Linked DNA regions of Homo sapiens. The protein of the gene in region 5 purifies or fractionates together with the protein of the main gene of each other region. This does not show direct contact. Each region holds a gene or a part of one and is shown on either strand. Other genes may lie near its edges.

Region 1 (3,963 bases), on a different chromosome or scaffold from region 5:
TGGTAAAACTTAAAAAATCTTAAAGCTAAAAAGATGAGAATCTCACATTCAAATATAGATTCCAGTTTTCCATTTTACCCTTTTTATTGCTTATTCATGATTTTTATGAAGGATGAGCCCTATACCTTTCTGGTTTAGTCCCTAATGAGAGAAGTCTTAAAGTGTCTTTTTAAATGTTTTGCTAATAACCTCATGCAGAGATACTTGATCAATCTATGACTTAAGTATCTAGTGAGCCACCCTTGAGACCTTTCCTTCTCAAAGTCTATTTATATTTACTTAACAATTCTAACAAGGTGGGTGACGAGCTTTCCAAGTCAGTATCAGATCAGAAGGGGATAAAATTGCTAATAAGGGAACAACAGAGAAGATAAAAAATCTTAAGTACTCAAGAACCACAACAGACCAGGGTAATCAACTCTACAGGAAAAGACACCTACATACCTCAAACAGTTTTGAAAGCATCAAAAGCATCATAGTCTAATCAAGTTATTGATTCAAGTTATCATTTAAAAAAAAGTCTGTGACAAGTAGTATCTTTCATTTTCTTTTACCCTCATTAATTTTTCAGATGTGTGAGTGCCTCTGAGTTTAATTTAAGAAAAAACAGGACAAGAACAGTTGGGCTGTTTAACTAACTGAAATAGCTATTTCTGATCACAGTATGCCATTAAAAGGTATTAAACAGAAGGTTTAAGGCATTTTAGATCTTCAACTCTTATTATAACCTCTAGCCTTTCAAGGACCAAAATAAGTGTTTGTGCATTTACTGATTTATTTAGGTTCATTGTGTACCTTATCAGAGGCCAACTGAAACTTATGGGATTGTTATCTGAAGACTAACAGACCTTTAGATACCAACACATTCTAATCTCTTCAAGGCTGGTCCTACTATGGCCCACATCTATGGGAGCTTATTAGAGATGCAGACTTACCAGCCTCACCTCGCACCTACGAGTCAGAACCTGCATTTTAACAAGATCCCTAGGGGATGAGCATTCACATCAAAGTCTGAACATCACCACTCTTGCACTGTTCTAACAATTATTCAGGAATATCTATCTGAATTTTTATTTTTGAGAAAATAAGATTTAAGCTTTCTGAGAAGAGGATCATTCCTTTTTTTTTTTTTTTTTTGAGACAGTGGCTCACTCTGTCACCTAGGCTGGAGTGCAGTGGCACAATCATGGCTCACTGCAGCCTTGACCTCCCTGGGTTCAGGTGTTCCTCCCAGTTTAGCCCGCCAAGTAGCTAGGACTACAGGTGTGCACCACCACACTCAGCTTTTTTTTTTTTTTTTTTTGGTGGGGAGGGGGTGGTTTGTAGAGACAGGGTTTTGCCATGTTGCCCTGGCTGGTCTTCAACTCCTAGGCTAAAGCGATCCTCTTGCCCTGGGCTCCCAAAGGGCTGGGATTACAGGCATGAGCCACTATGCCTGGCCAGCTCATTCAGCTTTTACTGTGTTTTTTAGGGAGTCTCTACTTTCCCCAAAGATTAAGAATCACTGCATTATTACGTCAAGCATAAACACTCAGTATAACAGCATTGACTATTCAGGAAGAATCATGTACCAGCGACCGGGCTATGGCAGCTGCTGAGGAGAAGCAGCCTCCATGCATAAATCACAGGATTGCTATGGCCCATCGAATCCACTGGAGAGCTGTCCATGCACAACAGCATCCAGCAACCACAGGGCAGGGACAGAGCAGGTTAACCTTGCACAACAACCTTGTTGTGCAGAGGGATGCCATCCCCTTTGCTTCCCTCTTATTATAATCCAGGCCCTTGACTCTTCGCTGCTCCACAACTCCTTCAGGTCACCTTAACCTCAACTTCCCGTTCAGCAATTTCGAGACCACCCTCCCTGATATTAACTACATATTATTCACATTACTTCATATTATTTTGCCTCAATATATTTTAGAAACGCACACTAAAACCATGTTTTGTTTAAAATTTCATAATTCCTTCCAGAATTGCTTCCCTTTTAAACTACTGTATTAGTGGTTCCAATATTCTTCCCATTACTTAGGCATGACATTTTTGAGTCACCCCTGACACTACTCAGAAGATACACACAACCAATTAATCATCAAGTCATGTGGATCCTACCTATAAGCCTATTTCTGTTCCCCCTTTTCATTCTCCTCTAAATCCATTTCTGTTTCTCCTTTTATTCTCAGGTCTTCATAATCTATTAAGTCAAATGTAACCTGAAAGTGGGACCGTCTCAAACGTTTCCTCAATTTAGTTATATCCTATTAACATAGACTCCACAGGTATACTCATGCAAATGTACAAAATGTGTATACAATGACATTCACCGAATAATTGTTTCTCCAGGCAAATAACTGAAAACAATCTAAATATTCATGGTGACTGAAGTAAATTACGGTACATCAATAAAATAAGTATCTCGCAGCCATTGAAGGTAATAAATTAAGACATATAAAAATACGTATTGCCTATACATAAAGTCACAGCTATATCAATTTATACTATGTATATCATTTTAAAAAGATTTTACTCATTTCAAACACTACCTCATTCAAAAAGGCGACCATAAATTCCTGAGGCTGGAAACGAACGAACGGCAAGCCCCGAAGAAACACGCTCTTTTAAAAATTAAATCTTGTGCTACTGTTTCGGGGTTGTAACGCGTGCGTGACCCTCGTCTTTGAGGGCCGGATCCTGCAGGGAAGAGAGGGCGTACCTGAGGGGCCTCGCGTGCCTGGACAGCCCCGCGGGCCAGCAAGCCTAAAAGCAACTCATCCGGCGTCCACGCTGCAACCGGGCGCACGGAGGTGATGCAACGCGCTGAAAATGCGGGATCCAGTGAAGGAGACAGGCTCCGCACCGGCCAATCAGTGCGCGCTGCCTGACACCTGCCAACAAGCCAGGCGCCGATTGGTCGCGCCGGACATGATTGCGCCCACTGGCTCGGATGGTGCGACAGTGGTGCTTGCTGGTTTTGCGCCTCCACGTGGAAAACGAACCAGCGCTGAGGGCGGCGCTGTGCGTGCTGCTTGTATCCGTTGCAGTAGTGTAGACCGAGGTCTCACTCGGGTTGTGGGCACCTCCGGGTAGGTGACGGCCCACTGGGAAGGGGCGCCGAGGTCGGGGCTCATGTTCTTCATCTTGTTTGCTTTTGTCAGTATTTATCTGACTGGACACTTCGTACCTAAATTGATAACGACAAACAGCAACTTCCGGAGAGGTGGCTTTAATAATTATACTTTTGGGCCCTGAGCCGCCGACCCCAAAGCCGCTTCTCCTATCATAAATGGCTACGTGAAACGATAATAACAAAAGGGAAGGAAGGGTCTGACAACCAGATTTAAAAGTTTTATTGTATTTTACTTAAAATGTTTCCGGTAATGAAAACATTGCACAAACGATTTTTTTTTCTTTTTTTGAGAAGCGGTCTCATTCTGTCGCCCAGGCTGGAGTGCAGTGGCACGGTCATGGCTCACTGCAGCCTCAACCTCCCCGGATCAGATGATCCTCGCACCTCATCCCTGGCCAAGTAGCTGGGACTACAGGCTAGCGCCACCACGCCCGGCTAATTTTTGTATTTTCTGTAGCAACGGGGTCTTGCTATGTTGCCTAGGCTGCTGTCAAACTCGTGGGCTCAAGCGATCTGCTTGCCTTAGCCTCCTTAACTGTTGGGATTACAGGCATGAGCCACTGCACCCGGCCTGCATACTTATTATCATTGCTATGAGTCGGCTTGGTACCTTACTGATCTGCTGGTTAAAATCTGGAGCCTTGCAAAGGGCAGTAGGCCTCGGGCTTTGGCCCCAGAGCCTCTAAAGGAAATTCTGGATCTTGCCAAATTGGGAGTAGTTCCGTAGCTGCCTATTGTATCCGTTAGAGGGATATAAAAAATTTATCTGGCCTAGAATAGGTAGAATGCAGTTTCTTATTAAGTTTAGGAACATTTTGATAGTCTGTTCAGCATAT
Region 2 (3,500 bases), on a different chromosome or scaffold from region 5:
AGATTTTTGAGAACAGGACCTGAGAGTGAAGGCCTCTCTGACAATCTTCACGCTTCACCTAGGCCCCAGATGTGCCCCCAATTCACTATCTTGGGTTGGGCACTCGATGCGGACTGGAGCCAATCACAAAATACCTCAACTGTAGGGTCCCACAGGTTGAACCAGAGATCTGGCTGAGAGAACAATTACCAATCACTGGGTAGCCATTTTGTGCTAAACAGCCCATCATTTAACAAACTCTCATGGATTACCAGGCATTGTACTAACTTCATTTTAATAAATACCAGTTAATCCTCCCCAAACCCCCCATGAGATAGATCACTATTATTTCTACTTCACAGACGAGGAAACTGAGGTACAGAGAGAAGTTACGTGATTTGCCTAAGTTCAAGTAGAGTTTGGATTTGAACCCATATTGATTCCTGTGCTCTTAACTCCAGAATTTCTCCCCCATAATCCCTACAGCCCTGACTGGGAATCAGGTATGACGCAGCCCACACCACAGTCAAGGGCAATAGCAACCAAGCCTCTTTGCTCAAAGGAACTAGGGTGAGGAAAAAGCAGGTCAGGATCAATCACTCTTCTCAGATCCCCATGCCTCAGGGCACCTGCCACAGCTGGACTCCACAGTGGGAGGACCCACACTGCAGGCTCCCATTTCAGGGAAACACATTCTGCCAAATGGACCCAACAACTGGGCATTACCTGGTCAGGAGGGAAGTTGTGCAGCAGCTGCCGGATGTTGTTCGAGTACTGGGTGTGCCAGTGGTGGCAGGCCCAGGTCACGCAGTCAGCCCAGGTCTGTGGTCGCTGCAGCACCAGGCTGCGCTGCACAGCCTCCAGCACCTCCAAGGGCTGAGTGCCTGCCAGCCGCAGTGTTCGCTCCACAAACTTGGGGTCTCTATCAGGAATCGAAGAGGACAGAGGATAGGATTACATGTCAGCCTCAAGAGTGGGCTCCAGAGCAATCTTACTTTCTCCATGGAAAACTAGTCCCGACCCCAAACAACATGAGGCCCCAACAGCCACTCATTCATGTGAAAAGTGTGCCTGGTGCCAAGTGTTACTGTCATGAGGAAAGCAGCCGGGATGCCTTGGCTGGTGGACAGGGACAGGGCGAGAGGGCACTCGAGTTACTCACGTGAGGTACTGGTTGACATTTTCTGCTGGCTGCTTGAAGAGGCCTTCAAACTCATCCCGAGCCCACTGCAGACAGAGCAAACAGATTACATGTGGCCACAGTTGACAAAATGGGTTTCCGCAGGCATTATTAGAAGGACCATCAGTGAATAAAGCAAGTACAAGGCGCACAGCTACTCTGGAAGTGGGGAAGCCCTCTAGCCTTCCCCATTCCCCCACCTCAATTGAAAAACCAGGCCAGGCACAGTAGCTCACACCTGTAATCCCAGCACTTTGGGAGGCTAAGGCAGATGGATCACCTGAGGTCAAGGGTTCGAGACCAGCCTGACCAACATGGTGAAACCCCATCTCTACTAAAAATACAAAAAGTAGCTGGGCGTGGTGGCAGATGCCTGTAATCCCAGCTACTCAGGAGGCTGAGGCAGGAAATCTCTTGAACCCGGGAGGCGGAGGTTGCAGTGAGCCGAGATCATGCCATTGCACTCCAGCCTGGGTGACAGAGGAAGACTGTCTCAAAAAAAGAAAAATCAATGAAGTTGATTTGGGCAGTGGTTACAATAGTGCTGTGTATGTGGAAAACTGTTTTGTTTTGTTGTTTGAGACAAAGTCTCACACTGTCACCCGAGCTGGAGTGCAGCGATGCAATCACGGCTCACAGCAGCCTTGACCTCCCAGGTTGAAACGATCCTCCCACCTCAGCCTCCCGAATAGCTGGGACAGCAGGCACATGCCACCACACCCGGCTAATTTTTAAGATTTGTTGTAGAGACAGGGTCTTGCTATGTTGCCTAGGCTGGTCTTGAACTCCTGGGCTCAAACAAACCTCACTCCTTGGCCTCCTGAGTGCTGAGATTATAGGTGTCAGCCGCCATGCCCAGCCTAAAAATGTATTAAGATCTGAGTGCCAGGCGAGGTGGCTCACGCCTGTATTCCCAGCACTTTGGAAGGCTGAGGCAGGAGAATCGCTTGAACCTGGGAGGCGGAGGCTGCAGTGAGCCGAGACTGCGCCACTGCACTCCAACCTGGGCAACATGAGCAAAACTCCACCTCAAAAAAAAAAAAAAAAAAATCTGTGTACCTTATTCTAGATATGTTATGCCTCCATAAAAAATAAAAACTTCAATTAGGTATATCTTACCACAGTTTTTTAAAACACAAAAAACTCAGACCAAACCAACAATGATCCCTATCCAGGCCCTGAGGACTTGGCAGAAAACAAGACAGAGGCCGGACACAGAGGCTTACACATGTAATCCCAGCACTTTTGGAGGCTGAGGCAGGTGGATCACTTGAGCCCAGGAGTTTACAACCAGCCTGGTCAACGTAACGGGCACGCGTGCGTGCGCACACACACACACACACACGTACACACACTTACACGTACACACAGACACTTACACACACACACACACACACGTACAGACACTTCCCAGGAGTTGGAAGGTTGCAGTGAGCTATGATTGTGCCAATACACTTCAGCCTGAATGGCAGAATGAGACCTGTCTCAAAAAATAAAATAGCAAACAAGACAGAACTTCTGGCCTCTGAGAATTCCTAGGACAGTTCGCAGTCATTAGCGAGGTGGTTTGGAGTGTACAGATGTTAGAAATTCAGGTTCAGATTCCAGCTATGCCACGTATTACCTAGTTTTGTGACTTCAGGCACACAGGATAACATCTTTACCTCTGTGCCTTGTCTCTAAAACAGGTGTTACAACAGTGATACCTACCTTCATGGGGTTGCTAGGAAGAAATGAGCAAATACATATATATTTAAAGCTTGGTTAAAACAGTGCCAGGCACACAGTAAATGCCAAGTGGTTCACAATAGTCCTGTGAGGTAGATGCTGTCATTCCCATTTTACAGAACAGGAATCTGCGGCACAGAGAGGTTAAGTTCAAGGTTACACATGACCTAGCAAGACTGTGGTTGGTGCACAAATACAAACATACCCACTCTGGAACTGCAGTGTCAGAAGGGAGAAAGTGACAGATGGAACTGTTTTTTTTTTCCCTTCCCTATTTTGTTCCCACCCTCATACTCCTACTATTCTAAATGGTTTGGCCTCAAACACTGCACTAAGAATTATTCTGACAGCACAATGGTAATCCCTAGGTTCTGTTTCTTGGCCCAGGTGGTGGTCACCTGTGTGTTCACTTTGTAAAACTTCAGCTAGATCAAGCTTGTCTAACCTGTGGCCCATATGCAGCCCAGGATGACTTTGAATGCTGCCCAACACAAATTTGTAAATTTTCTTAAGACATTATGAGATTTATGCACGGATCTTTTTTTCTTTTATTTTTTCAGCTCATCAGCTATCGTTAGTATTAGTATATTTTATGTGTGGCCCGAGACAATTC
Region 3 (3,500 bases), on a different chromosome or scaffold from region 5:
TAGTTGCCCAGGCTAGAGTGCAATGGCGCGATCTCGGCTCACTGCAACCTCTGCCTCCCAGGTTCAAGTGATTCTCCTGCCTCAGCTTCCCAAGTAGCTGGGCTTGCCACCACGCCCGGCTAATTTTTGTATTTTTAGTAGAGACGGGGTTGCACCATGTTGGCCAGGATGGTCTGGATCTCTTGACCTTGTGATTCGCCCGCCTCGGCCTCCCAAAGTGCTGGGATTACAGGCGTGGGCCACTGCGCCCAGTGAAAAAACTACGTTCTTAAAAGCGATTTCCTCAAGCAAGAAGCCTAAAAATAATAGCTAACATTTATTAACCATTTACTCTGTTCCATCAGTGAGCTGAGGGCTTGTACAAGTATTGTTTAATTCTAAGACTTCTGTGTGGTATAGGTAAAATTACAAGTTAGAAAAGTGGAGGCTCAGATGTGGGCCTCATGTTCTCCTTGACTTCTGACCTTTTCCTCTCTCACACTGTCCCTTACCTCCCCACCAAGAGCTGCATACCTAATTTTTTATTTCTCTTCTTGCTCTTACCCCCCCATTCCCTCTAAGATTTGCCCTCTTGTCTCTAGTTGCTGCTGCTACCTTCGTTGAGGCCTCATTGCTGCACCCACGTTACTGGCCATTGCCTCCTAACAGAGTTCCCTTTCTTGCTCCGTTCTTCACATTGGCCCCAGTTGTCAGTTGTCTTTCTGGCATAAGATCTAATTACCTTATTCTCCTGTTTAGACCTGTCTAGTTTCCCCATGGCCTGGAACATAGCCCTTTCTCTATACCTCTGACATACACGGGCCTTCACTGTTTGCCCAGCCTTTACTTTTTTCTTCTTGAGACAGGATCTCACTCTGTCGCCCAGGCTAGAATTGCTGTGACATAATCATGGTTAACTGTAGCCTCAGCCTTCTGAGCTCAAGTGATCCTCCTTCCTCATCCTCCCCAGTAGCTGGGACTAGAGGTGCGTGCCATATGCCTGGCTAATTTTGATATTTTTTCTAAAGATGGGGTTTCTCCACATTGCCCAGGCTGGTTTTAAACTTCCAAGTTCAAGTGATCCACTTGCCCTCGGCCTACCAAAGTGCTGGGATTACAGGCGTGAGCCACTGTGCCCGGCTGCGTTCTTTTATTAATATCTTAAATGAGCTACTTTTTCTGAGCCCCTATTTTATCTTACAAAAGTGACGGGGCTATAACACAGATTTAAAATATGTTTAGGAACATATATAAACTGTCGGCTTAAAGCCCTCGTAGAAAATTTAGATCTTGTTAAACAGTACCCTCTATCTACAGGTACTATGTGCATATGTAGTAAAAGTATAAAATCAAGTGTGGGCATGATGAAGTCACCATCTAGTGGTTATTTAGAGGACAGAGTACAGCTGGTCATGTCATCAGGAGGTTTTACCTCTTTGTTAAGGTTACATTACTTAAGCCAGGTGATTGTATACATAGGCTTTCTTTATATTCTCTGTATCTTTTGTATATCCAAAATATTTAGGACAAACAATCATTTTTAGAAATTTAACTTCCTTGAAACACTTAGGTTTCTCTTGAAAGTGTTCTGACAACTTGAATTGAGGAAGAAATCAGACTGCCTGCCTTAAGAGTTTATTTGTTCAGTGTTACATGCTTTGCCCCATGAACCACCTGCCAAATTTATATTATACACAGAGACAAGGGTATAAGATCTAGAGTCTTCCTGGCTGGGCGTGGTGGCTCACATCTGTAACAGCACTTTGGGAAGCCAAGGCAAGCGGATCACTTGAGGTCGGGAGTTCAAGACCAGCCTGGCCAACATGGTGAAGCCCCATCTCTACTAAAAATACAAAAATTAGTTGGGCATGGTGCCACGTGCCTATACTCCCAGCTACTGAGGAAGCTGAGGCAGGAAAATCAGGGAGGCAGAGGTTGCAGTGAGTTGAGATCACACCACTGCCCTCCAGCCTGGGTGACAGAGCGAGACTGTCTCAAAAAAAATAAAGAACTAGAATCTTCCCTATCATATTGTATTAGTTCTTAACATGCAGATTTCGGAGCAAGATACTTTCATCCAGTAGTTTAATGATGGTCAAAAATTTCTTCCCATATAAAAGAAGTCTTGATAGATTATTAATTTATTACTTAAATGTTTACCATTTTTAGTCTTTCCTGTGGTCTTGTACTACATCATGGATGTGGTAGAAGAGTAATTGAACTTGGGTTTTTTTGTTTTTTTTTTTTTTTGAGATGGAGTTTGGCACTTGTTGCCCAGTTTGGAGTGCAGTGGTGTGTTCTCAGCTCACTGCAACCTCCGCCTCCCCGGTGGGTTCAAGCGATTCTCCTGCCTCAGTCTCCTGAGTAGCTGGGACTACAGGCATGTGCCACCACTCCTGGCTAATTTTGTATTTTTAGTAGAGATGGGGTTTCTCCATATTGGTCAGGCTGGTCTCGAACTCCTGATCTCAGGTGATCCGCCCGCCTCAGCCCCCCAAAGTGCTGGGATTACAGGCGTGAGCCATTGCGCCCGGCCAGAACTTGGTTATTTATGCCACCTATTTTTATTTTTATTTATTTTTATTTATTTATTTTAGGCGTAGTTTTGCTTTTGTTTTCCAGCCTGGAGGGCTGGAGTGCAGTGGTGCGATCCTGGCTCACCACAACCTCTGCCTCCCAGGTTCAAGCGATTCTCCTGCCTCAGCCTCCCGAGTAGCTGGGATTATAGGCATGCACCACCATGCCTGGCTAATTTTTTATTTTTACTAGAGACGGGGTTTCTCCATGTTGGTTGTGTTGGTCTCGAACTCCCGACCCCAGGTGATCCACCCGCCTCGGCCTCCCAAAGTATCGGGATTACAGACGTGAGCCACCACGCCCAGCCTGAGCTACCTATTTTCTTTTTTTTTTTTCTTTTTTTTATTTTTGAGACGGAGCCTTGCTCTGTCACCAGGCTGAAGTGCAGTAGCTCGATCTTGGCTCACTGCAACCTCTGCCTCCCAGGTTCAAGCAATTCTCTTGCCTCAGCCTCCTGAGTAGCTGGGACTACAGGTGCGCGCCCCAACGCCCAGCTAATTTTTGTATTTTTAGTAGAGACGGGGTTTCACCATGTTGTCCAGGATAGTCTCGATCTCTTGGCCTTGTGATCCACCCGCCTCGGCCTCCCAAAGTGCTGGGATTACAGGCGTGAGCCACCATGCCCAGCCTAAACTACCTGTTTTCTAATGATCTATTTGCCTTCTGTGGATTGGTTAGGCCACTAACTTGAATCTCATGTAGCATTTCATAGGAGTTATATCTGAGAAATCTGGCTTTCAGCCATCAGCTTCTGGTGATTGGAAAACTATTACTTAAAGTTTCATTTAACTTAGGTCCCCCCCAAAGACCCAAACTGAATCTAAAGCCTCGGAGTACTCCTAAGGAAGATGATTCCTCTGCTAGTACCTCCCAGTCCACTCGAGCTGCTTCTATCTTTGGAGGGGCAAAGCCTGTTGACACAGCTGCTAGAGAAAGAGAAGTAG
Region 4 (3,500 bases), about 140 Mb from region 5:
CATATCATCATCTAAATGTTACAATAGCATCTCATAAAATTCAGAAGCCATTCCTATTTTTTGTAAAGCAGAAACAGAATAAAATAATAATCTTTCTCTAAATCCAACAGCTGCCATCATCCCTAACTGTAAAAATATTAATACCAGAGTCATTTCAAGACAACGACACGTCTCTTGTTTAACCAAGTCTTGGAACTTCAGGCCAATGTAATAAAGACCTAAAACAGGGTTAAGGGCTGGGCACGGTGGCTCATGCCTGTCCAACACTTTGGGAGGCTGAGGCAGGCGGATCACGAGGTCAGGAGATCGAGACCATCCTGGCTAATACGGTGAAACCCCGTCTTTAAAAAAGAAAGAAAAAGAAAAAAAAAAAAGGTTAAATATTGTAACCATAGAAAAGTGACTGAAGTTACTATTATTCTCAGATAAAACAATGAACCTGGAAAACAAAATAAAGACGTTTACTGAAGTCCAGTAAGATAATAAAAATACCAATGAACAGAAAAATCTAGTTACTACTTCTTCTTTTTTTTTTTTTACTTAGAGATGGAGTCTCGTTCTGTTGCCCAGGCTGGAGTGCAGTGGCTTGATCTCAGGTCATTGCAACCTCCGCCTCCCGGGCTCAGACAATTCTCCTGCCTCAGCCTCCGGAGTAGCTGGAACTACAGGTGTGCACCACCACACCCAGCTAATTTTTTGTGTTTTCAGTAGACACAAGGTTTCACCACGTTGGTTAGGCTGTTTCCAACTGCTGACATCAGGTGATCCACCCACCTAGGCCTCCCAAAGTGCTGGGATTACAGGCGTAAGCCACTGCACCCGGCCAAATATTTTTATACCTGTATTTTATTTCTGTAGCAAAACTATTTTAAAACTCTTTTATCCCCACCAGGCATGAAAAAATTCCAGAAAGATTAAGATTGAAACACAATGGGCTGGGCACGGTGGCTCACGCCTGTAATCCCAACACTTCGGGAAGCCAAGGCAGGCAGATCACCTGAGGTCAGGAGTTTGAGACCAGCCTGGCCAACATAGCAAAACCCCGTCTCTACAAAAAAAAAAAAAAAAAAAAAATCAGTTGGGTGCGATGGTATGGTGCCTGTAATCCCAGCTACTCGGGAGGCTGAGGCAGGGGAATCACTTGAACCCGGGAGGCGGAAGTTGCAGTGAGCTGAGATCCAACACTGCACTCCAGCCTGAGTGACAGAGTGAGACTCTGTCACAAAAAAAAAAAAAAGATTGAAACACAATAATTATTAAAAGTACCAGAAGAAAACACATAAGAATGTTTTTTGTAAAGGTGGAATGAGGAAGATCTTAAACAGAAGGCAATAGATTAATATCTATTACATGTGAAGAGCTTCTACAACTCAATAAGGAAATATACATTACAAGTCTTTTTGGAATGCAATTCAAAAAAAAAAGAAAAAAGAAATTTAAATGCACACTTACAAGTCGTTTTAATGGAAATACTTATCTACATATGCATGTGCACAAAGACATACGTATAAGTTCATTAAGGCTCTAGTTTTAGTTGCTCAAAGTTAGAAATAACATAAATGATCACAAATAATTAAAGTACTACCATACAGCATAATATCTAATGACTTAAAAAGTAGAGGTGCCACTATATGTCATGATATGGAAAACAATACTTAATGATCAGATTTTTTATTTTAAAATCAACATAAAAAGTATCCGACACACAAAAGGTACTACTTATTTCTAACTCAGTAAGTAAAACTATTAACAGCGGGTAGGTACTTCTAAGGAATGGGACTAAAAAGAGAAAGTAATTTTCACTTTTTAAGAATTTTATAAGACAGGGTCTTGCTCTGTCACCCAGGCTGGAATGCAATGGTGCAATCATAGCTCACTATACCTCCAACTCTTGAGCTCAGGTGATCCTCCTGCCTCAGTCTCCCAAAGAATTTTCACTCTTTAAATATTTAATTGACTTGTTTGAACCTTTTATAATAAATATGTACTGCTTTTAGAATTTAAATTTAAAATAAGGAACAAAACCACTGTTCCAGTTTGTTACAATGGTTCTGCCAGCTGAGACTAAGGTAATTTTGTCTTAAAAGTTTTTACCACTTTCCAAATTTCTTATTTAATATTTTTTTCTACTTTTATTTTTGTCTGATTTAAGAGATGGGGTCCCCCTGTATTGTCCTGGCTGACCTCAAATTCCTGGACTCAAAGGATCCTCAGCCTCCCAAGTAGCTAGGACTACAGGCACCACCAGCCACTGCCCACTTTTCAACTTTTATACAGGAAATATGCATATTTTTAAATCTGAGAAATTTGTGTTCAAAAACCCTATGTTTTATTTCAGTGGTGAAACTATTACATATTTTTTCTCCTGAAAAATTACATTTTATTCATCCAAAAGTAATTTTTATTTTTAGTTACGGTCTCAGAAACTTCGTTCTTTTAGAAGGCAGTTTTTTGTTTGTTTGTTTGTTTGTTTTTGAGACGGAGTCTCACTCTGTCACCCAGGCTGAAGTGCAGTGGCGCAATCTCAGCTCACTGCAGCCTCTGCCTCCTGGGTTCAAGCAGTTCTCCTGCCTCAGCCTCCTGAGTAGCTGGGATTACAGGCGCCCGCCACCACGCCCAGCTAATATTTTTATTTTTAGTAGAGAATACTAAATTCTCTACTAAAGAATAGTAGAGAATATAGGTTTCACCATGTTGGCCAGGCTGGTCTTGAACTCCTGACCTCAAGTGATCGGCCCACCTCAGCCTCCTAATGTGTTGTGATTACAGGTGTGAGCCACCGCACCCGGCCTAGAAGGCAGTTTTAATTCTAAGTTTAGGAGTATCGACTCTACAGCATGTAAGAACAGACTATTAACTAACGTTTATTAAGACCTATAATTACAGAATCCTTTACCTGCATTCCCTCATTTGATCTAAATATCCCTGTGAAATTGGTATTATTATTATTATCCCCATCTTACAGGTGAGAAAAGCAAGTCTTGAAAAGAATGTATATCTTGCCCAGGGTAAAGTAGAACAGCAAGAATTCAAACGCAGGACTCTAGCTCCTAACCACATGGGATACATGGAGTAAGTACTAAAGAAACTCAGAGATAGTAGGCTGGAACACTGAAATCCTGAATGAATGTTCAGACTGACTACCCTTAACCAGGCAGGTGACCCTAGAAGGGAAGAAGTGATGAAACTCAACTCTGATCACAGAAGAAAACAACCAGTATTTTATTTTTTGGGGGCAATGAGGGATTTTTTTCCTTTCCTATTCTGCTCTGTTAAGGCACAAAAAGGATACTAGGAAGAGCTTGGACACACAATTTGCAATTAACACCCTCCCTCTGATTAGTCTGGAAACTCAACTCTTATACCAAACTGATGGAAACCTTTACGACTTAAAGTCTTGAAGTTGACCCAGTTTCTTTTTCTTTTTCTTTTTTAATGAGACGGAGTCTCGCTCTGTAGCCCAGGCGGGAGTGCAGTGGCGCGATCTCGACTCACTGCAA
Region 5 (3,500 bases):
TGGAGCACTCAGGAGGCAATTAACCTGGTCTGCGGGAGACCAGAGAAAGCTTTCCAGTAACATCTCAGTTGCGGCACAAGAGGGAGCAGACAGAGAGGTGCTTCAAGTAGAGAGGCCTCAGCACATGCAGGAGCCTAGAGGCGAGGGAGGAGACAGGCTGCTGGAGCAACTGAAGGAGGAAGCCAAGTGGTGGAACAACAGAACGGAGAGAGATGGGCAGGCCCTGCAGCCCACATCCAGCCCTGTCCCCCACACATGGCTCCTGTGTGTCCCCCAGACTCCTCTCCCTCCAATGCAGCTGGCACCTTCTGACCACACTCAGCCTTCTCGGTCACTCGGCCACCTGGTGAAGCCTTGCCGTCTTCCTGAGTGTAAGCTGAGCTCCTGCTACATGGCTGACCCCCCGGGGGACCCTGAGGGCCTCTGACTCCTTGAGGGTGTCAGTTTTAAAGATGAAGCACAGAGGAGTCGAGGAGAGGAGATAGTGATTTGCTAGAGAAGTGCTAAACAGAGAAACAAGGGCTAGGCCAAGGACACTCATGGACTCCACTGTGGAGGGGGACCTCCCCATCCAGCGAACGGCAGCATGCCTCAGGCTACCACGCCCATCACCAAGGGGCTACGTGCACCTCTGCCTCGCATGGGAGTCCTGGTGCTCCCCATGGTATCTGGCAAAGTTAATGACTGCCGTGAAAGCTGAGGGATCTCTGCTTTGCATCCCAGAGAATTTATACTTTGTAGAATTAGAGATGGTAGACAGCCAAGACACACAAAGAATTGAGTCCCTGGCTTTCTAACAACAGCTGGGTTTCAACGGCATCCAGGTCTTTAGCTACGTGAAATAAATGGCTGGCCCTGGCAAACAAGCACAGGCCTCCACACTGGGGTGAGAGGAACAAAAGGGGGCTTTACTTTAGAGAGTGACAGTTGAGGATTTCAATGTCAACAGCTGATGGCAAGGGACTACCTCTGAGGCCAATCTTTAAGTCAGAGCCTCCACTAGAAGTTGTCTGAGCTCAGCATGAGAGTAGCCAAAAACCAACAAACCCGGGTAAGATAAACTGTCCAAGATGGCAGACCCCAAGCATTATCCGCCACTCCCCTGTTCCATGCCCAGACACATGTCACCATTCCCTCATGCCAGATCTTCTTCCTCATGCACTCTGAACCCCAGTCAATCCAGTGGTCTAGGGAGCCGCCACCAACCAACCACAGCTGGCCTACCACAGGAAATCAACATGCCATTACGGGTAAGACAGGACACGTTGTTAAAAATAACTCCACTCCGGGTTTTTAACCAGGCCAGGAAAAACTAGGCTAATATTTAAGCACCCAGAATTACCATGAAAGCAAATTAGAAGGTGGCAGGTAGCCGACTGTTTCCCGGCAGTACCCCCATAGGTTGCCTTAGCTAAGAAGCCTGATGCTTAGAAAACCAACCAACACTTCACTAAATATCTCTGCCTGGGAAAGTTCTGGGGTTCTGGAAAAGCCGGCATTTGGCTCTCTGGGAGGCAACAGAGAGCCTGAAACATAAAAAGGCACCATCCACACCTGATGGGAAAACCACAAATGAGTGTCTTTCTGTTGTTATGCTCAAAGACGACCATTTGCTTTAAGCTCACAGGTCGGCCACAGGGGACAAACTCTGACCCCTTTCTGTAAGGGGGATTCGGAAGCTGGTGGCACTCACCAGCCTTTCCCCATAGTCAAAAAGTTTCATTGCCACAGGAGATGTTCATCTCCACTGTTGCCTGCCAGGTCGGAGCCACATCACCCCTCCTGGGAGCAGCCTTCTACCCGTTTCCTGTGCCCAACTCTCTCCTAACGCAAGTGTTACAAAACTCCAAAACAAGCCCGTAGCTCTGAATTCTGTCACCGAGCCCCATTCTCATTCTTCATAGCAGTCATCACAAGTTTTAGTTGTAAAAGCCCTAGACAGTAAGCTCCCTGAGGGCAGGAACTTTGTCTTGCCCACAGCTGAAGTCCCCTAGACTAGTGATTATAGGAATTTTTTAAATCTATATTGAATGAGCCGCAAGCACAAGTTTGAGGAGAAACATGTTGTTTTAAATGACTTGAGGCTTAAATGAGTATCTGAGTAGAATCAGTCTGAGTTGAATGTCAATACTTTCTGATCAGTGTGAGAGAGAGTGAGTGTGAGTGTGTGTGCACATTTCCATGTGGTAAGGGGGAAGCAGGAATGGAATCAGGAAAGCGTGTGGTCAGTGGACACTCCAGCTGCCTGAGAGTTAACCCAGAACCCAGCAGTGGGCCCCTCAACCTGCCCTTCCCCTCTCAGCGTGACCCAGAGAAAGAAGAACAAGACCCCGCTGAGGCTCTTTCTGCTCCTGGGGTCCTGGGGTGGGGCTTTGCCCTCTTCACACCACACCTAAGACAAGGCATAAGTGGCCCAGAACAGCCCCAGCCCTCGGTCTTCTGTCCACACCACACACTTGCCTGCCCTTTTAGAAATGGGGGCGGGGGAGGTGGTCTCAGAATTCACCACTATAGAATTCATCCATGTAACCACAAACGACTTGTACCCCAAAGCTATTGAAATAAATAAATAAAATGTGTGGGGGTGACAATCATTTGAGTAGATAACTAGAACCTATGGAGAGTCCTCCCCCCAAAACAAATGGAGGAGGGTCTTTCACTACTTAAGTCATATATTTATTTATTGTTTGAATCTTTACAGCAGTGGTTCAGGCTGAAGTGATTTTGTCCCTTAAGACATCTGGCAAGATATGGAGACATTTTTGGTTGCCACAAATAAGAATGGGGAAGGAGAAGTCTGCTATGGGCATCTAGCAGGTACAGGGCAGGGATGCTGACAAAAGTCTACAATGAACAGGACAGCCCCACACCACAAAGAATCATCTAGCCCAAAGTGTCATAGTGCCGGAGTTGAGAAACCGTGTTTCACAGTGATTACACATGACATCACTAAATACAAAAGAAAGAATTTGAATCTGCATATCTTGATCAGCTACTAGTATTGTCAGTGAAAAAAAAGAAACCAAGACACATGAATAAGGAGCCAAGCACAAAATAAGGTAGAAATTTTCTTTCTTTTTCTTTTTTTTTTTTTTTGAGACAGGGTCTTCCTCTGTCACCCAAGCTGGAGCGCAGTGGCGCAATCTCAGCTCACTCAACCTCCCAGGCTCCCATCTCAGACATCGTCCCATCACAGCCCCCACCCCACATAGCTAGGATTACAGGCACGCACCATCACACTCAGCTAAGTTTTGTATTTCTTGTAAAGATGGGGATTCCCCATGTTGCCTGGGCTGGTCTCAAACTCCTGACCTGAAGCAATCTGCATGCCTTGGCCTCCCAAAGTTTGGGGATTACAGGTGTGAGCCACTGTGATTTTCAACTTTGTAAAGAACCAGCTTTCCCCTGAATCAAGAACTAGGTCCTCCAACACACGCACAACTGTTTCCAGTCAAAATTCTAAGCCGATGCTTTTTGCCATGTTACCGGTTCTACTGGGA
Region 6 (3,500 bases), on a different chromosome or scaffold from region 5:
TTTGCCATGTTGCCCAGTCTGGTCTCAAACTCCTGGACTTAAGTGATCCACCCACCTCAGCCTCCCAAATTGCTGGGATTACAGGTGTGAGCTACCACACCCAGCTTCAGCTATCTTTTTTATTAACTTTATTGAATTGTAAACAGAGAACACTTTAATTCTAAACAACTCTCTCAAGAGAGTAAGTCTAGGCCAGGCGCGGTGGCTCACATCTATAATCCCAGCACTTTGGGAGGCTGAGGCTGATGGCTCACCTGAGGTCAGGAGTTCGAGACCAGCCTGGCCAACATGGTGAAACCTCGTCTCTACTAAAAATACAAAAGTAGCCGCAAGTGGTGGCACATGCCTGTAGTCCCAGCTACTCAGGTGGCTGAGATGAGACAGGAGAATTGCTCGAACCCAGGAGGTGGTAGCTGCAGTGAGCCAAGATCGCGCCACTGCACTCCAGCCAGGGTGAGACAAAGAGAGACTCTCTCAAAAAAAAAGAGAGTAAGTCTAAAGACTTACTCTTTTCCAACATTTTAGATGTCATTTTTTAAGCTTCATACATTAAACATTATTACTGCTTTATATGGCAACATTTACCCTGGATTCATATTTGCCAATTTATTTATTCCCTATTCCTTCTTGCTTTCCTTCTAGGATAATGCTTATTCCTAAAGTACATGCTTTTAAAATTCCATTGGTAAATAACCTCTCTCAGATTTGGTTCATCTGAAAATATTTTCACTTTGCCCTTATTCTTTAAGGAAGGTTTTGATGATAGTTACTTGATACTGGCTGTAACTGTTGCTATTCAAAGACCTGCTACTTGCTGTTCTTCTGAAGGTACTGTGTTTTCTCCCTGCTTACCTCTCTGTATTTGGTATTTTCTACCTGTAGCTTATTCTGTTTGTTATACATTATAAATTTCCTGTCATGATGGGCTGACCACCAATTCTAAATCAATTTCAGTTACCATCTCTTCAGATTATTGCAATTCCTCCATTCTTTCCTACTGGGATTGCAATGGGCATGTTTGACTTTCTCAGTGTCTTCAACATCTCAAGCTCTCATATGTTCCATCCCCTTGCTCCTCTGTGTGAAATTCTGTTATTTCTTCAGATTCATCTTTCATTAACTCTTTTATAGCTGTTGTTTAACATTGTTTTTCAAATCTTTCTGGTTATTTTTGATAGCCTTTTGTTGCTCGCTATTATAATTCCATTTTAAAAAATATCTTTGAACATTTTATATCTAATTATTTTACATTTGTATCTAGAAATTCTAATGCTGATTTCCTTAGGGATCTAATTTTTATTGTCTCTGCTTTGGTGTAGTTTAATTATGTGTTCTTTGCTTGTTCAATTGACAGCAATCCCAAAGACGTAACTAAACTGGAGTGCTTTTTCCAGAGAGGATCTGTTTATTTCTCCTGAGACAATGACAACACCCACCTCTGTGTATATTTTACTGCTTTTAAGGGTTCCCGTTCAATCCTGATCTCTGACTCAGATCTCCCACTAGAGCACTGATATGGCCATCTGCCCTCAGGGCAACCCAGCTTAGAGTGTTTAAAATTCTCTATAAGCACAACAGTACATTAATCAGAAGGGCCCATTAGAGGATCTAGTTTTCCCTACTTCTAAAAGTGGAAGTTCAAACCTGTGTTTCAATTTTACATACACTCTTATATAATGTACCCTCCCTTAGAGTGCAAAGTATCAGTACTATCCTTTATCATCAGTTTAGGAGTTATATGTAGTATTACTACCTTAACATTAAAAACAATAACATTAAACTGCCTGTAATTAATTATAAAAGCTTAGAGTATTCAGTTAAGGTAAACGATACCTAAAATGTTCTCCACAAAGCTAAAGGGAACAAGATTATTTCTTAGTTTATTAAAAGGAAAAAAGAAAGTGTGATTCGAAACCCAAGGAACTGAAAAATAAGGTCAGATGCCTCAAATATGAGGAAACTGCCAGAGAATAAGCTGGATCCCTGCACTGACACCAAGGGAGTAACTGGCTAAACCACAGGCAGCTGTGACACAGCTGTGACGGCCCAGTCCCCGAAGGGACCAGAGAGTGCTGTGAAGGAGCTAAGTGCTAGCTTCAGGGAAAGCCCAGCCAAGCCAGGCTGTGGTCACTCCCGAACACTAAGGCTAGCCCTGGCAACAGCTCTGTGGGAGGGTCAATTGTCAACAGTCACAGTGAACAGGGGCACCCATATTACTGTGCTCCATGCCTGTGGTGGGACAGCCTGATGGCAGGATTGCCAACTATTACATCCTCCTGCAGGCATATTCCCATAGGTAATAGGAAAGTGAATGCTTTCTTGAATTTTGGACTAAGTCCTGTCATTTCACTTTACAGTTAAATTGTCTAGATCCAGACACCTAAACAGCATAAAATCAGGGATGAAAACAGAGGCATTCAGACCTGAGAGACTTGTGTCAGAAAGGTCAAGCCTAGAGAAGCTGCTAAGTGAAAACGGAAGCTGAAGAAAACAGGAGGTGGAGGAGGATGTGGGCTCCCAGGAGGAGAGGTGAGCCTAGGAGGTGTTGCCCTAAGGCAGAGCCAGGCTTTGCTTCTCAGATGCCACACAGCACTTGGCCCCACTGAAGGGCCTGTCAGCTTCTGTGGGGCAGGTATCCCAAGGACAAGGACCCAGCAGGGTTGTTATTGTGTCTCCACAGCCCTGCAAAGGGCTTAGCTCAGATTAGAGGTGCAGTGGGGACCTTTCAAACCAAGACAGAACCAGCAGCCTTGCCACCAAGGTACACAGAGGTATGACTAATAAGTCTATCAATGTTCCCCTGTAAATGCAATCTATCCTCAAAACAGAGTTACCAAATGAATTAGGGCTCTAAATATGAACCCGGGAAAACTTAATAACCAAACAGTAGGCAGTAATTAGGTGATAAGATCCAGGCATACGCTGCTTAAAAAGAAGCCCCATTCAAACATTAGAATGGACACTGCAGGTGGCTCTTGTCAGGAATGACCTGCATGAACTGGGCTCACCTTTTCATTATAGTTGATGGCAATCACATCCCCGGTGGTCAGACAGGCAAAGTTCCTAAGTGCGTTTTCTAATCTGCAGACACATTCTGTCAAGGCAACATGGCAAGATGGATACCTTAATCTGAAACAAGTTTCCATGTTAGATGATTACTGGTAGGTAGAGACTGTACCATGATGGTACTTGAAACACGAAGCTTTTAATACAATAAAGTACTACTTGGCAATAAAGAAGGATGGAACTCCTAATATGCAATAATATGGATGAAATGCCAAGCTGGGGTAACAAATGCCAAGCTGGGGGAAGGGGAAATAACCAACCACAAAAGGGCAGTGAGATTCCATCCACATGGAACCCTGAGAAAGACAGATCTATGAGGATGGGAGGTAGCTGAGAGGTTTCTGGGCCAGGGGATCAGGTGGGGACTGACAGGAAAGGACCTTTTGGGGACATGGAAATGTTCTGATTACATGGGTGTATACATTTTCAAACTG
Region 7 (3,500 bases), on a different chromosome or scaffold from region 5:
CTGCTGATGAATGGGGAAAGGAGGCAGGACTGATTTGTGCATTTGCCAGTTTTTGTGGTATAAATACTCCCATCATAGCTGCTTTAAAAATGGCTGTTTAACAGTCTCTACAAGCTGGCTCTAGCACACCACTAGTTAAAAACAACATAGTAGTCACCTCATTAAGAAACTGAAAGTGATATAGCCATATTCCTGAAAGCAGTTATAGTTTGAGTTACACAAATGTCTGTATTCCAATAAAAGCCATTGCACAATTCCTTGCATCAGCCTCTAAAGTTTCTTCCAGGAATCATACTTTGACAACAGATTTAAGTAAGGACTTCTGGGGGTTTTTTTGTTTGTTTTTTATTGAGACAGAGTATCACTCTGTCGCCCCAACTGGAGTTCCGTGGTGCGATCACAGCTCACTATTGCCCCAACGTCCTGGGTTCAAGTGATTCTCCGACCTCAGCCTCCTAAGTAGCTGGGACCACAGGTAACACGCCACCACACTTAGCTATTTTTTGTATTTTTAGTAGAGACGGGGTTTCACCACATTGCCCAGGCTGATCTTAAACTCCTTGGCTCAGAGCAATCTGCCCATCTCAGCCTCCCAAAGCGCTGGGATTACTGGCATGAGCTACCACACCTGGCCAGGACTTTTCAACATTAAAATTACAACTTACATTATTCATGAAGTACTTGTTCATTTATAGAAGCTAGACTCTTAGTCTGCCAGTGTTTTTTCCTATAAATATTTTGTAAAACTTCACTAAAACAAGATCATAATTTGGTAATCTGCTACTTGCCCTGCCATTAAATATGTCATCACTATCTCCTTGTCTTAGTAGCATCATTTTTGATAACAAGTATTCCATTTTACAGATGTACCACTATTTAGTTTTAAGTTGCTATTTACTTTTAACTATTGAGAGCATAGTGAACAATGTAGTTACTAAATCTGAGGTCAACTATTAAGAATGGACATTTCCCAGCTACTATAAATGGAATTGAATCTAAGAGTCATAGACATGTGATTCATTTTTATTTTTATTTATTTTTATTTTTTTAGACAGAGTCTCACCCTGTCGCCCAGGCTGGAGTACAGTAGTGCGATCTCAGCTCACTGCAACCTCCACCTCCCGGGTTCAAGTGATTCTCCTGCCTCAGCCTCCCGAGTAGCTGGGATTACAGATGTGCGTCTCCACGCCCAGCTAATTTTTGTATTTTCAGTAGAGATGGGGTTTCATCATGTTGGCCAGGCTGGTGTCGAACTCCTGACTTCGTGATCTGCGGGCCTCGGCCTCCTAAAGTGCTGAGATTACAGGCCTGAGCCACTGCACCCGCCTCATTTTTAAAATTGTATCAACTTCAGGCTGGGCATGGTGGCTCACCCCTGTAATTCCAGCACTTCGGGAGGCTGAGGTGGATGGATCCCCTGAGGTCAGGAGTTCAAGACCAGCCTGGCCAGCATGATGAAACCCTGTCTCTACTAAAAATACACACACACACACACACACACACACACACACAGAGACACACACACACACACACAAATAACCAAGTGTGGTAGCACATGCCTATAATCCCAGCTACTCGGGAGGCTGAGGCATGAGAATAGCTTGAACCCAGGAGGCGGAGGTTGCAGTGAGTCGAGATCACGCCATTGCACTCCAGCCTAAACGACAGAGAGATACTCTGTCTCAAAAAAAAAAAAATTGTATCAACTCCAAAGTATTAAAAAACTGATTATCAGCTGAGCATGATGGCTCATGCCTATAATCCCAGCGCTTTGGGAGGCTGAGGCAGAAGAAGCCCAGGAGGTCAAAACTAGACTGGGCAACATGGTAAGACCCTGTCTCTCCAAAAAAAAAATTTTTTAAATAGCCAGGCATGGTGTCGCATGCCTGTAGTCCCAGCTACTCAGGAGGATGAAGTGAGAAGATCACTTGAGCCTGGGACATCAAGGCTACAGTGAGCCGTGTTCATGCCACTGCACTCCAGCCTGGGCAACAGAGCCAGATCCTGTCTCAAAGAAAAAAAAAATTATCCAATAAATAAATCAAATAAATAGGCAGAACTGATAGTAAACCTTATTATTTAATAAAAAGCTGAGTTCACATTGGCTTCCCTTTCTTAAGAGCATCATAAATAATTTAATTCAGTATAGTTTTTTTAAAAAATCAGATCCCATAATCGTAGATTCCAAAGAACTATCCAGATTCTTTTTAAATTCAGAAATGTTGTGTGTGTGTATATAGACCTTTACCTAAAAATTTTTATTAGAGATTTTTGTTGTATTATTTGTGATAAGAGAGAATGTATTCTTTTTTTTTTTTTTTTTTTTTTCAATTTGAGTCGGAGTCTCACTCTGTCCACCAGGCTAGAGTGCAGTGGTACCATCTCGGCCCACTGCAACCTCCACCTCCCAGGTTTAAGTGATTCTCCTGCCTCAGCCTCCCGAGTAGCTGGGACTACAGGTGTGCGCCACCACGCCCAGCTAATTATTGTATTTTTAGTAGAGAATGGGTTTCACCATCTTGGCCAGGGTGGTCTCGATCTCCTGACCTCGTGATCCGCCCACCTCAGCCTCTCAAAGTGTTGGGATTACAGGCATGTAATCCAAAGTGTTGGGATTCTCACGCCCGGCCGAGAGAATGTATTCTTATAGCAGACCTAGGAAGTCTAAATTTTAAAAAGAATGAGAGGGAGAGGGTGTTGATCCGCCTTCCATTAACATAACTTTTCTTGAGGAGTGTATGCATTTTCTCTAAATATGTAGATAAGCCATCTAGTTTTGCATTGTACTTTGGGTGCATTTTGGTCATCACAAAGACTCAGCCAAACATTCACAAAAGGATGGTATACTGGCCTTTGCTGGAATTCAGCTACTAGCTCATCTGATCCATTAGGGAATGTCTAAGGGTCTAGTTAGTTAATGTAGCACAAAACCTCACTCATTTGTGAGTACTGGCCAAGTGTGTCAACAAAAAAATGTTCTTAATGTCTAAGGTACAAATGGATCCCCAAATAAAAAGTTCTCAGAGGCCAATTTATAGTTTTACCCTACATAAAATAGCAGAGCCTGATTATAATTTCCACATCTTTGAATATGTGCATACTTTTGTACTTTGTGTGAGAAGGTAGGAAAATCAAACAATTCGTGTCTATTTTTTTCAGATGCCCAGACCTGGAGGATCCCCAGGGTCTTCTCATGGTTGCAGCAGGAAGGACACCTCTCTGAGGAAGAGATGGCCAGAACATTTAACTGTGGGGTTGGCGCTGTCCTTGTGGTATCAAAGGAGCAGACAGAGCAGATTCTGAGGGATATCCAGCAGCACAAGGAAGAAGCCTGGGTGATTGGCAGTGTGGTTGCACGAGCTGAAGGTACTTGCTCCTTACTCATTTTTAGATATATAATTTTAGCTGTATAATTTTAGCTATACCTCAGCCTTGCCTCACAAGCTTTCTGCCCACCTTTTAGTGCAGCCATCGCTATGGCAACTATCTTTACACAGATG

The links.
Region 1: the proteins of FLNB (region 5) and IARS1 fractionate together in Homo sapiens (co-fractionation; one large-scale study listed by BioGRID). This does not show direct contact.
Region 2: the proteins of FLNB (region 5) and UBA1 fractionate together in Homo sapiens (co-fractionation; one large-scale study listed by BioGRID). This does not show direct contact.
Region 3: the proteins of FLNB (region 5) and EIF4B fractionate together in Homo sapiens (co-fractionation; one large-scale study listed by BioGRID). This does not show direct contact.
Region 4: the proteins of FLNB (region 5) and PAK2 fractionate together in Homo sapiens (co-fractionation; one large-scale study listed by BioGRID). This does not show direct contact.
Region 6: the proteins of FLNB (region 5) and UFD1 fractionate together in Homo sapiens (co-fractionation; one large-scale study listed by BioGRID). This does not show direct contact.
Region 7: the proteins of FLNB (region 5) and GART fractionate together in Homo sapiens (co-fractionation; one large-scale study listed by BioGRID). This does not show direct contact.

The regions. Positions count from the first base shown.
Region 1 is NC_000009.12:92,290,898-92,294,860, forward strand, and holds the start of IARS1 (isoleucine--tRNA ligase, cytoplasmic), read right to left. Parts: upstream 2,801-3,963; 5' UTR 2,714-2,800; exon of another isoform or gene 2,544-2,713; intron 1,697-2,543; exon of another isoform or gene 1,561-1,696; intron 26-1,560; exon of another isoform or gene 1-25. UniProt on the Homo sapiens protein: Catalyzes the specific attachment of an amino acid to its cognate tRNA in a 2 step reaction: the amino acid (AA) is first activated by ATP to form AA-AMP and then transferred to the acceptor end of the tRNA.
Region 2 is NC_000023.11:47,207,329-47,210,828, reverse strand, and holds part of UBA1 (ubiquitin-like modifier-activating enzyme 1), read right to left. Parts: intron 1,207-3,500; coding exon 1,142-1,206; intron 902-1,141; coding exon 706-901; intron 1-705. UniProt on the Homo sapiens protein: Catalyzes the first step in ubiquitin conjugation to mark cellular proteins for degradation through the ubiquitin-proteasome system.
Region 3 is NC_000012.12:53,030,456-53,033,955, forward strand, and holds part of EIF4B (eukaryotic translation initiation factor 4B), read left to right. Parts: intron 1-3,350; coding exon 3,351-3,500. UniProt on the Homo sapiens protein: Required for the binding of mRNA to ribosomes. Functions in close association with EIF4-F and EIF4-A. Binds near the 5'-terminal cap of mRNA in presence of EIF-4F and ATP.
Region 4 is NC_000003.12:196,742,857-196,746,356, reverse strand, and holds part of PAK2 (serine/threonine-protein kinase PAK 2), read right to left. Parts: intron 1-3,500. UniProt on the Homo sapiens protein: Serine/threonine protein kinase that plays a role in a variety of different signaling pathways including cytoskeleton regulation, cell motility, cell cycle progression, apoptosis or proliferation.
Region 5 is NC_000003.12:58,126,922-58,130,421, reverse strand, and holds part of FLNB (filamin-B), read right to left. Parts: intron 1-3,500. UniProt on the Homo sapiens protein: Connects cell membrane constituents to the actin cytoskeleton. May promote orthogonal branching of actin filaments and links actin filaments to membrane glycoproteins. Anchors various transmembrane proteins to the actin cytoskeleton.
Region 6 is NC_000022.11:19,462,194-19,465,693, forward strand, and holds part of UFD1 (ubiquitin recognition factor in ER-associated degradation protein 1), read right to left. Parts: intron 3,082-3,500; coding exon 3,009-3,081; intron 1-3,008. UniProt on the Homo sapiens protein: Essential component of the ubiquitin-dependent proteolytic pathway which degrades ubiquitin fusion proteins.
Region 7 is NC_000021.9:33,511,118-33,514,617, reverse strand, and holds part of GART (trifunctional purine biosynthetic protein adenosine-3), read left to right. Parts: intron 1-3,159; coding exon 3,160-3,366; intron 3,367-3,500. UniProt on the Homo sapiens protein: Trifunctional enzyme that catalyzes three distinct reactions as part of the 'de novo' inosine monophosphate biosynthetic pathway.